Regions from separate parts of the Homo sapiens genome. Here regions 1 and 2 are each reported to be linked to region 3. The links are microRNA targets in miRTarBase. Many come from high-throughput screens and were not tested one by one. Region 3 holds a microRNA gene; each other region holds the end of a gene's coding sequence.
Evidence for each region. Region 3 holds the annotated microRNA hsa-miR-4310 (GCAGCAUUCAUGUCCC, at 2,543-2,558, opposite strand). A microRNA usually pairs through its seed, bases 2 to 8, with sites in the 3' UTR of a target mRNA and lowers its output. Matches are read on the target gene's strand: a 7mer-m8 pairs with bases 2 to 8, a 7mer-A1 pairs with bases 2 to 7 and ends in A, and an 8mer does both.

Region 1 (4,000 bases), not on the chromosome of region 3:
TAAGGTCTTTAATTTCAAAACACTTACTAAGCATAATATATCCAGAGATTGGCAATTAATTTTAACAATTTAGGTCTTTAGTAAAATTAATGTGGGCAGAAAATGTTACTTCATTACAAAGTGTTACTATATACTTTGTCTTGTGACTAACTAGAGCTTACAGGAGTATAAACAAGTTAACTGAATTTTTCAGTGGCTGAGGATTTTGTATACTTCCTCATTTTGAACTTCAATCATGACTATATAATCATATTCATACATCTGAGACTGAACTAGATATAAAGATATCACAACACCCACTAGAACTGGTTAATTAGATATGCCCATTATTTCTTCACTATTTACCGAAGAAAAGTATGAAGAAAAAAAGACTAATTTGGTTTAATTATGGTTACATAAAAATTATGTAAATATTCAAACATTTGATGAAATCATCATACTCCAACCATAAAGAATTGTAATTCCTAATGGTTAAGCAGCTTTCAGATATCATTAATAAAATACATGACTGTCATTAAAAAAATTATCATTCAGTGCTATTGATTTTATAAATAACCTTTTAGGTTAGGCCCTGCCATACCAAATTTCCTTCCTGCCTTTTTTTTTTTTTTTTTTTTGAGACAGACTCTCGCTCTGTTGCCCAGGCCAGAGTGCAGTGGCGTGATCTCGGCTCACTGCCAGCTCCGCCTCCTGGGTTCACGCCATTCTCCTGCCTCAGCTGTAGCAGCTAGGACTACAGGCGTCTGCCACCACGCCCAGCTAATTTTTTGTATTTTCAGTAGAGATGGGTTTTCACAGTGTTAGCCAGGATAGTCTCGATCTCCTGACCTCGTGATCCGCCCGCCTCGGCCTCCCAAAGTGCTGGGATTACAGGCGTAAGCCACTGCGTCCAGCCCTCTGCCTTCTTTTAAAATAAATCAGGTAGACCTAAACTAACTTAAATGTTCTCATGAAAATCAGTAAACAGCTTGGTTTTGTATTAACTTTTAGATCTCCTCAGGAACCTACATGTGACAAATTCCTAAGTTTAACACCTTAATATTACTAGTAAGTAGCATGAGTGGTAGACTATGTCTGGACTCCACATCCTGCCACTTCCATTCCAGTATCTGGACCACATCACCACTAGGAGTATGGAGTTAATCATCAGTATGACACAGCATTGAAATTCTAAGCACTGCTGTTACTAATTTTGTTAATGTATGCATATAAACAGGTATATAAACACTAAAGCCATAAAAGAGCAGTATCTATTTCTTTAGTACTAAAAGAATTTCAACTGTTAGAAAAATGAATTGGCTTAAGAGACAAAAACAAAGCAAAACAAAACAAAACATGCATCTTGAAAGTTAAAAACAAACAAACTGAAGAAAAAGCCAGTTGAAGTATTTGGATTTAACTTTACCCAACTAAGACATTCACACAACATATGCATGTCAGTCTCCTGTTCAGTCCTAGAGCCTGCAGTATTGTAATTTATTGTAAAACCATGTAACCAAATACTTAAATATATCCACAACATCTATACCACAGAAATGCATAGTACATAATATACTAACATCTCAAAATAAACTTCTATTACAGTTTTATGCAAATTATGGTAAAAGATTATCACCTGCCACATTTTGAAATGGCACCAACTTCAACATCAATGCACTAGTCAAAATCCTTACTAGAAGTGATGTCTTCTGCATTATCATCTGAACATTCAAAATCAAGCTGTTAATCTAATAACCACAGTATGTTATCATTTAAAATCACTGTATATTTGGATGTTAAAGCAGGTAGTAATACAGCAGGAAAAGTGTTTCTAATTCACAGTTTCAAAACTAAAGGGTGCAGTTTTCAAATATCTGATTGCTTAAATTGGTCACTCAATTTAACAACTGCCTCCTTCAATACATGTAAACTATGTTTGCACAGCATTAGGAGATGTCTTTTATTTCAGAATTAGTTCTTACTGTTACAGGAGCACCACAAATTTTAAGGAAGAGGCTACAGTGTGAAATGAGCTCACTGAAGGATATGTTAAATAAAATTTTAACTACAATATAAGGTACTGCAAAAGCTTTGTTCCCCAGCACAGATCCCTTAATCAGGAAAAGTAGTGAACACTTACCCAATACAATATGTAAATTCGCTCTACAGGAGATGGGGAAAAACCTAACTCAACTAAAAGAAAATACTATTATTAGCTAACAAACCTGTGATAGCTGGCTTCAGAATTTTCCTAAAAATAAAATTCAAAAGCATACACAGTATTTATATCCTTTGATAAGGAATGTAGACATCCAAACGGAATGAAAGAAAAATCTGGTTTTAAGAATTTCTAAGTGGAATCACACACACACAAATGGGTAACTGAGAAAAACTAAATATTCAAAATTTAAGTAAGAAGATTTATAATAGAAAAAAGTGGCAAATTGTTACTGTGACTTGATTTTCTGAAAACATCTGCAAATTCACACTGGCATTAAGAAAACCCAAGTCTCAAAAATTCTCCTTTCTTTCTCTCCAGATAATGTGTTTTCTGTGCAAAAATAAATATCTGAAAATTGCACTAATACTTATTTTAACTTCTATATTATGAATAATCTGCACATGCTGCTTTACAGACGATACATATTTGTAAACTTACTCATGCAAAATTAGTGTGCGCAACAGGGATATTGTTAATTTTCATACTTAAAAATGATACCTTATTATCTTTTAAAAATTGCCAAACTCTCTGAAATGGTTAACAAATCTTATATGGATATTCTTGTCTGCCAGCTAAAAATCAATTTATGTTGCTGAAAACAAAAAGTTATACAAGAAAAAGAAACATGGTTTTTGTTTTGCAAGATTTTTGATTTTTAAATGAGAAAATTTATAAAAGAAAGAAATTCATGGTCACAAAATTTTAACATTTTAATCCTAAACATTACAGGGTAAATAGATACTGGACCCTATCTCCATACTCCATAAAATCCTAACTTTTAGTTTCCATTTCAAATGTTGCTGTAACCACTAAAACACTAGTGGTTTTACAACCTCTGGATTATGGAAATACACATTTCTGAAATAAATGCTACAAAAACAACAATGGAAGAAAGCCAAACAAACAGTCTCCATGAAGGAAAAAAAAGTGGAACATTTTGAAGCTTTTAGACACTTCTCTTTCCATGTCTTATGATTAACCTGTCAATTCAGTGCATTGTATGGTCATATGTAATGGTCCCCATGGTGAACAAACATCTAACTAGTGTCCATTGATTCCAAGTTAGTAGATGATGAATCTTTCTGGATACTTTCAAAGATAGCCGCCAGCTCAGGGTTAGAACTGATCTGTGACTGGAATTCACTCATCAGTGGACTCTTCTCTGCTTCTGGAATGGTTAGCAGTGCTGCTACTGCTCTCATGGCAGATCGCTTTAATTCATCTTGTTTTTCAAACTCCTGCTTTACTGAGTTTGCCTTTACCTGTAAGATGGAGTAAACTTAGATTACATGCTATAAAAGACAGCTCTTACATGAACAAAATTTAAGCACATAAGATCTTCCTGCTAAAAGCTACTCTCGTAGGTCCATAAGGCATATTACATTCTAAGAACAACTGTTTTTAAACTTATTTTTAAAGTAGCTGTCTCCTTTTCTTTTAAGGGAATATTTTACACAAAGCCCCATTATAAAAACAGAAAATCTAGACCCAAATGATTGTAACAAAGAGAGTAGGACACTCTTTGTTTCAACTATCTGCTTAGCAAGTCTCACACTTTAGCCCCCATCAAGAAAGTACTCCTCTAGCTACCCTATTCTTTGCTATACTCTATTATTCACTTTTTCAAACACACCATATGATGACATCTCCAGGCCTTTATTCAAAGCCCGTTTCATCTTCTTGGTCTAAAAAAAAAAAAATCTTGATTTTTCGAGGTTCATTGCAAATGTTGTCAACCTAATATGAAACCTTCTGACTCCCCTTCCAACCAGAATTAAAAATTTCCTCTTTTGTGGCCTG
Region 2 (4,000 bases), not on the chromosome of region 3:
CTTATTCAACTTGTATGCTGGCCGTTTTGCTACCTTTCTGAGACTTTCCATTAAAAGATGAACAGAAAGTCAGTTGAAATCACCTGCTTTTCCTGAAGACTTCGAGTTTGGTATCCATATTATCCCATGGAAATTTGAATATTTAATATCACTGAATAAGCCTTTGGTCCAAAGTGGTGATGTATAATAATGGAATTATTAGCCTATTATTCTGAGAATTAAACACATTGATATCATCACCTTTCTAAATATCAGTAGAAGTTTGAATGTTTACTAATATAAAAATCATCTTGAAAGATTTCTTCCTTTTCTTTTTTTCTCCCAGGAGGAAGAAGCAGTACTTTTTTGTCTCATAGCATTAGTAACCAAGCTAATGTTCACCAGTCTGTCATTAGCTCCTGGCTCAGCACTGATCCTGCAAAAGACCGAATTGAAATCACAAGCTTACTTCCCAGTAGGTCTCTGTCTGTGAACACTTTGGATGTTTTAGGTCCTTGTCTTGTTTGTGGAACCGATGCAGAAGCAATTTATGTTACTAGACATCTTTTTTCGTAGAAGTACTATAATTATAAGATTTCAGATAGAACATGCAATTAGCCTTTTGAAATCCAACTTCTGTGCAAAATTTTAGTATCAGAAAATACGAGATTTGCAGGGGAAACATCAGTAAACTACCATTAATGTCAATGCCCAGTTTTGACTTTTGTTAGCCTGACACTCCCAAACAGTTGTAGAATCCGATAGATGACTGATGGCAAAAGATTGTGAACATGTGGAAGAAAATCAGTGGGATTCTGGTGCTGATGAATAGGTTGCCTTCAGAGTATTATTGACAGACAGCTTGTGGAACTAATTCTTTATTTTTGATGTTGTGGGAATTAACACATCAATGGTGGTTATGGGAACTACCAATGGGTTCCTACAATTTTTATCAGTAGTATGTGGCATATACACCTTCCTAGTGGCAGTTGCCAATGTTAATGATTATTCTTTTTATTGCAAGTATTTCCTATGATCCTTCCACACTTTATTTCCTTAATAATAATAAACTTTTTCAGAAAGAATTGAGTAGAGCAAAAATGACAAAGATGTGTAGCTGTGTTCAATTTTTTTTTTTTTTTTTTTTTGAGGCAGAGTCTTGCTCTGCTGGAGTGCGGTGGTGCAATCTCGGCTCACTGCAACCTCCACCTCCCAGGTTCAAGCAATTCTCCTGCCTCAGTCTCCTGAGTAGCTGGAACTACAGGTGTGCGCCACCACGCCCAGCTAATTTTTGTAATTTTAGTAGAGACAGAGTTTCACCATGTTGGCCAGGATGGTCTCGATCTCTTGACCTCATGATCCACCCGCCTCGACCTCCCAAAGTGCTGTGATTACAGGTGTGAGCCACTGCACCCGGCCTGAAATTTTTTTAAGGTGAAAATGTTTTGACAAGTTCCTTTTTCAGAATAGGTTTTTGAGCAGAACTCTTTCAGCTTGTTAGACCCAACTTTGCTTTTGTTTAGCTTCACAGCATAGCTGAAAGTTGCCAAACTGGACATTGTGCAATAAAGTAGAATTCTATATTGATAAGCAAACTATTTCCAAACTAAAAATGTGATAGATAAAAGTGTGATTAATCAAATGATATGATCAGAGTAAAGAATTTTGCCATTTTGATCCTTTTACTTTGTTTTAGCCACCTATAGTGTTACCAACCATCTTTATCCTTGTCTGCAGGGATAATAATGAACTAATGTAGTGTTTTAAGATAATTTAATGATACTATCTTTCCAAACTTTGTTAGATTTTAAATGTATTATTGACCTGAGACCTTAATGACAAATCACTGCTATTAGACAATTGAAGTGTTCATTTACTTTGTAATTCCAATAATCATAGTTATGGAATTATGGTAAGGTTTTGCTTTTCTGTCCTAATAAATATATATATTTTTTGAGATGGAGTTTTGCTCTTGTTGCTGAGGCTGGAGTGAAATGGCATGATCTCAGCTCACTGCAACCTCCGTCTCTTAGGTTCAAGCAATTCTCCTGCCTCAGCCTCCCGAGTAGCTGGGATTACAGGTGCTCACCACCACACCCAGCTAATTTTTGTATTTTTAGTAGAGATGGGGTTTCACTGTGTTGGCCAGGCTGGTCTTGAACTGACCTCATGATCCACCTGCCTCAGCCTCCCAAAATGCTGGGATTACAGGCTTGAGCCACTGCTCCCGGCTGATTTTTGTATTAGTAGAGACGACAGGGTTTCACCATGTTGGCCAGGGCTGGTCTCGAACTCCTGACCACAGGTAATCAGCCCGCCTCGGCCTCCCAAAGTGCTGGGATTACAGGCGTGAGCCACTTAGTATTTGTAACCATAAGAGAAAGTATATTTTAACAGCATTACATTTCATGCCAATTGACAAGTTTTGCCAATTTTAATAAGAAACTAAGCTTTATGTAATGTAACACCGTAATTTATGAATTTGTTCATTGTCACTGCCTTTATTCATGAAACTGTCAAATAGAGTGTCTTTCAAGGGTTGCAGGATCTTAGAGATAGAAAGTACCTTGGTGATCATCTCCAGCCTAAATTTCATCATCCCTTCTATGGTATTCCCAACAAATTATCATCCAACCTATACTTAAAAACATATGGTGGCCAGGCATGGTGGCTCACGCCTGTAATGCTAGCACTTTGGGAGGCCGAGGTGGGTGAAGCACCTGAGGTCAAGAGTTCGAGATCAGCCTGGCCAACATGGCGAAACCCCGTCTCCACTAAAAATGCAAAAAAAAAATTAACCGGGCGTGGTGGCAGGCATCTATAATCCCAGCTACTTGGGAGGCTGAGGCAGGAGAATTGCTCAAACCCGGGAGGCAGAGGTTGCAGTGACCCAAGATCGTGCCACTTCACTCCAGCCTGGGCAAAAGAGCAAAACGCCATCTCAAAAAATATACATATATAAGGAGATAAAGTTTCCCATTTTCCAATACAGTTTCACATTTGAACAGCCCTAATTGATACAACTTTATGGCAGGGTTTTAGTGTGTGAGTGGGATCCAAAACACTCAATCCTGTAAAAGGGTACAGTCCTATTGTATGTTAACACACTGATGATGTGAGCCTGTGAGATGAGCCAATCACCAGTTGTTATGTTCGAATCTGCTTTGTGTTGGGACGCTTTAATGTCAGGGTTTCACTAAATAAATGAATTTTCATATACTGAACTGAAATTTGCTTCTATCTGTCTTATCTCGGGAGCCACACACACAAAATTCCTCTCATCACATATTCAAATATTCAAAATTGATTATTATAGTCTCTCCAGTGAAGGTTTCCTTCTCTTTCTTTCCATTTTTGGCTAAATCCTTCTTATCCTTCAAGACTCCTTCTAGGTGTCATTTTCTCCAGACAGCTTTTATTGGCCTCCAGCAATCCGGACTAAATTGCACTCTGCTTCAAAAGCCCATTGTGCAGAACTTAAATTGTGCGCAAAGCAGTGTGTTAAGGAGCCTGTCTCCCCCTACTGGGCCACAAGATCAAGAACAGCGCCCATGTCTTCGTGTAACAGTGTTTAACAGTATCTGAACCATAGTAAGCAATGAGTCACTGTTAATTGACCTTGTTTTCACAATCTTGTTTTCCCTTTAAAAATTACTGCTCTTTGTCAAAGGCCTTTTTTTTTTTTTTTGAGACTTTAAGTCTCGCTCTGTCGCCCAGGCAGGAGTGCAATGGCACGATCTCAGCTCACTGCAACCTCTGCCTCCCAGGTTCAAGCAATTCTCCTGTTTCAGCCTCCCGAGTAGCAGGGATTACAGGTGTGCGCCCAGCTAATTTTTTGTATTTTTAGTAGAGACAGGGTTTCACCATGTTGGCCAGGCTGGTCTTGAACTCCTGACCTCAAGTGATCCACCCTCCTCCACCTCCGAAAGTGCTGGGATTATAGGCATGAGCCACCGTGCTCGGCCAGAGGCCTTCTTTTAAGTGTGACTTCCAAGATAAACACTTTTTCATATATTGTCTA
Region 3 (4,152 bases):
CGGTTCTTGAGCTGCAGTGACAAGTCACTGATGCTCCTGATGCAGGCATCACCCACTGTGTCCTGCAGGGGAGGTATGGGTGAGGGCATTGGCACCCCCCATGCAGAGCCCCTTCTTCCCACCTCAGCAGGCACTGAAAGCATGCCTGGGCCCCGGAGCATGAGGAACTGCATATTTGGGCAGTGGGAAGAACTGCCTCCTGCCTCCTCTACTGCGGCAGGTCCCTGAGGTCACCCCGTCCAGGTGAAGTGAGCAAGATCAGCTTGGAGCCTGCAGCCCCAGAGTCATCTCTAAGGCCAGAAAATGGGATCCCTGCACTGGGTACCATGTAGGAGGGGGAGAGTGGGCACATGCTCACTAACAGAGACTCTTGAGACGGAGTCTCCCTCTGTTGCACTGTTGTTGTAGTGGCACAATCTCAGCTCACTGCAACCTCTACCTCCCTGGTTCAAGCGATTCTCCTACCTCAGCCTCCCGAGTAGCTGGCACTACAGGTGCCTGCCACCAAGCCTGGCTAAGTTTTGTATTTTTCGTAGAGATGGGGTTTCACCATGTTGGCCAGGCTTGTCTCAAACTACTGACCTCAAGTGATCTGCCCGCCTTGGCCTCCCAAACTGCTGGGATTACAAGCGTGAGCCACTGTGCCCAGCCACAGAAACTTTTAAAATGAAAATTCGGCTTCTTGGTTGAAGAGAAGCAAAGGGAGGTTGTGGAATGGAACAGTGAGCTCTGGCTTCCTGGGGTTTGGGTGTCCCCACCCCAGGACTCGTCTGAGCTGAGGCTGGTGCTGCTTGGACACTGGATGGGGTTTAAAGGTACGCAGGGAGGGGGTCCACCGCAGGGTGTGATTGCAGATCTCCTGCCTCTGGCTTCTGTAGAGCTTGTTTAAATTTCCAAAGCACTTTCCTATGAAGTGCCTCATTTGCAAGGTAGGCAGGGAAGGACATTCCCCTCCTTTTATAGATGCCGGAGCAGAGCTCAGAGGCTAACCTGGCTCCTTTGCGGCAGAGCCAGGATTCAAGCCCAGCTCCTTTGGAGTCTAGCTCTCTTCCTACTGCAGCATCTGGCACAGCGTCTGTGAAATTCCACCATTAACAAGGGATGTCTTAGGTTTAAGCACTGCCGCCTCTTAAAAAGTAATACATACATGTACCGGGGGACAAGGTTAGCACATTTGGTCTTTAACACCTGATTGTCAATACATTTGCCATTTTTTTCCCCTGTATACCACATAAGAGAAATAGATGTTTGGTGTGTGTATGTGTGAGGGGGCGGGTGTGGGGTGAGAAGACGCTGAGACGCTGAAATAGTCACACTGAAGGTGGGCGCTGATTATCTGCCACATCCAGGCATATGTCCTATCTTTTTAAGATTTTTTGAAATAATTATAGATGCCCAGGAAATTGCCAAAGTCCTGCAGAGAGGTCCCTGTGCCCTTCCCCAGCTTCCCTTACAGCAGCATCCTATATAATGATAACATTAAAACCACAAAGCTGACGTTGGTGTAATACTACCAACTAGACCAGACCTCATTCAGATTTTATTAGTTTTTGCAAGTATGCATCTGTGCGGGGCAGTGGGGGATAGGTCTATGCAGTTTTATCACAGCTAGAGATTCACGTACCTGCCACCACACACGTGCTCTCTTACCTCTGAGGTGGGTGCTACCCCCATTCTAAAGAGGAAGGAGTGAAGGCGGGTGAGAGGAGGGAGCCTGCCCGAGGGCATAGGAGGAGCAGGCATGGCGCCCACGCCCTGCTCTACAGCCCACACTCTTTCCCTGCTCTCAGTTGGATTTTCAGTGCGGGATGCATGGCCAACCTCTACCCAGCAAGGCCCTCTTACCCCGGCCGAGTTTCCTCGGAACTCGCGGAGCCGCCGTCGGAGCTGCAGGCAGTGCTCCAGGTCCTGGCCCAGGTCACCAACATTCATCTTCACCTCCTGTGAAGGCCGAGGGTGGGGAGGGAGCGCTGTGAGCACCAGCCCAGGCTCCTGGCACCTGCTGCTGGGGATCCCTCCTGTCAAGGGAGGGCTCCTCCCCCCATCTCTCAGCCCCCACCCAGCTGGGGCTACACCTTCTCCTGGATCCAGGCCTCTGCAAGGTCCACTCTCTGCAGGAACTCCAGGAAGTTCCGCCTGTCCTCCAGCTCCTGGCCCCTGAGGGCCATTGCCTGCCTCAGGTCCTCCCAGTGCTTCCGCAGGCCCTGCAGCCGCTGGGAGACCTCTCCGGCTCGAGGGTGACTCTGTGCCAGGAGAGCCTCTCCCTTCTGGAGGGAGAGAGGGGACACAGGACATCTTGCCTGCTGCACTTCCTCCTAAGACTGACATTGCCCCTGGGCCACACTTTGGGGCAGGCATGGGGCTGAGGGCCCGGTTGTTACCTTGGCAACAGAGGTCATGACCTCCTCATGGGCCTGGACTTCAGCCTCAAAGGCCTGGTGTTTCAGCAGGGGCTTCAGCTTATCTCTCAGGTCCCCAGGAGGGACCGGCTCCTTCAGCTGCTGGGCCCACGCCTGGATCCAGTCCTCAGCCTGGTGGGGGTGGGACATGAATGCTGCAATGTTCTGCAGCCTCAGGCCCCAGACGCCACAGGCCTAGCCCCCAGCCATTCCCAGGAGGCTGGCCTCAGGGGTGGGGCGGGCAGCACCTGGTAAATGAGCCCTGAAGGTTCCAGCTCCGGAAGGTTGCTGCAGGAGGCAGCCGGGCAGGGCCTTGGGTGGGCTCTCGTTTTGGAGGTGTGGCCCCTACTCCTGGGGCCCTGGGCTGCTCTGCTCCCTTCCCCACCTCTCTTGCCCTGGCGCTGCTAGAGCTCGGGACACTGGTGAGGTCTCCACACAAAGGGGCTTAGATCCCATGTTCTGGGCTCCAGCACAGCCTCTGGGAAAGCCATCCACCCCCGAACCTGTTTCCGCCTCACAGTGTTGCGGTGTGAAGGCGGCTGAAAACTGTCGAGTGTGGTTCCAGTGGAAGGCCCTGGGCTGGGGGTGCCCTCTGACCTGGGTTGCGGCCTGGGTGAAGCTGGCCATCAGCAGGGAGGCATGCAGGGCGTGTCCCCGGCTCTCCGCCAGCTCCTTCACTCTCATCCGGCGCTGCAGCAGGATGGGAAGCCGGTCCCGCACCCGGGGGCGCCGGAGCGTCTTCAGCCGCTCACGCAGGGCTGCCTCCTGTGGGGCAGGGGCACAGCTGCTGCTCTCCCACCCTGGGCTGGGGCAGGGCCTGGCCTGCAGGGCTCACAGTCCTTTCTTTGAGGGCCCCGGAGCCCTTTCCTCAGCCCCACATGGCTGAGGGGTATCTGATCCTCCCAGCCACAAGCCAGACCAGTCTGCTCCCCAAGGACCACACGGTGTGGACAGAGCCAAATGCCCCGTGTGGGTCTCTGCAGTGTGGCCCATCTCCCCCTGGGCCCTCTTCTTGAGCCACACATACAACTTGCTCAGTCAACCCCAACCAGGACCCCAGCCTTGCAGGCTCATCAGCACTGCCTCCAGGAACACACCAAGCGCCCCGTGACCCCCTTCAGGACTCTCTCCCAACCACCACACTCTGACCACGCCCAGGCCTCCTGACTCCATTACCTTCTTGTCCTGGGCAGTCAGAACCTTCAGGAAGACCTCGTGCTTGCGAATCAACTGCTCTACCTCTTCCACCGAGCTCCCCAAGGCACTGGTTTTCAGGGAGACCTGGATCCACAGAAAAGTCAGAGGCCACCAAGCCTTCCAGCCAGCCAGCCCCTCCAGCTGCAGTCTGTGCCCATGGGCACTCTGGGTATGGCAGGGCCTTAGGAGTGCCCACTGAGCTTGGCATGGAGCTGTGAGGAGTGGGAGTCCAGGTTGGGAGGCTGCGATACCTCAACCTCTGCACCATGTGGGGAGCATGACCAGCCTCTGGCCAACTTCCTCGGGGCTCAGTCTGGGATAGGGGCTGGGGATGTCAGTGGACGCTCAGGGGCCTCAGCACTTCACCATGGCCACCTGGAAGGACTTGTGCACAGCTGCCTCATATTAGAGAAAAAGCCAGAGAGGCAGGAGGAAAGGGACTGAGCAGAGAGGAGAATAGAAAGGAGGAGCAGGAGGCTGAGCGGAGTGTGAGGGCGGGAGGGGACCTGCCTCCTGGGCCGCGAGGATCTCCTCCAGGCGGCCGCACTCTCTGAGG

Region 1: the mRNA of CAND1 is a reported target of hsa-miR-4310. Seed matches in the 3' UTR shown: 7mer-m8 at 1,921-1,927 and 7mer-m8 at 1,158-1,164.
Region 2: miRTarBase lists NUP43 as a target of hsa-miR-4310. Seed matches in the 3' UTR shown: 7mer-m8 at 2,175-2,181.

The regions. Positions count from the first base shown.
Region 1 is chr12:67,312,068-67,316,067 of GRCh38, reverse strand. It overlaps CAND1 (cullin associated and neddylation dissociated 1), which reads right to left. Exons shown (of 15, transcript NM_018448.5): 15 at 1-3,462. The coding sequence ends at 3,238. Among named protein-coding and RNA genes, the nearest start is that of CAND1, 45 kb to the right of the region's middle.
Region 2 is chr6:149,723,524-149,727,523 of GRCh38, reverse strand. NUP43 (nucleoporin 43) reads left to right here. Exons shown (of 8, transcript NM_198887.3): 8 at 326-3,209. The coding sequence ends at 555. Among named protein-coding and RNA genes, the nearest start is that of LATS1, 7.4 kb to the right of the region's middle. RefSeq lists a silencer at 2,795-2,997.
Region 3 is chr15:41,863,963-41,868,114 of GRCh38, forward strand. MIR4310 (microRNA 4310) reads right to left here and starts at 2,589; the gene lies at 2,533-2,589. It overlaps SPTBN5 (spectrin beta, non-erythrocytic 5), which reads right to left. Exons shown (of 68, transcript NM_016642.4): 34 at 4,107-4,152; 35 at 3,576-3,680; 36 at 2,997-3,164; 37 at 2,382-2,531; 38 at 2,076-2,267; 39 at 1,846-1,941; 40 at 1-62.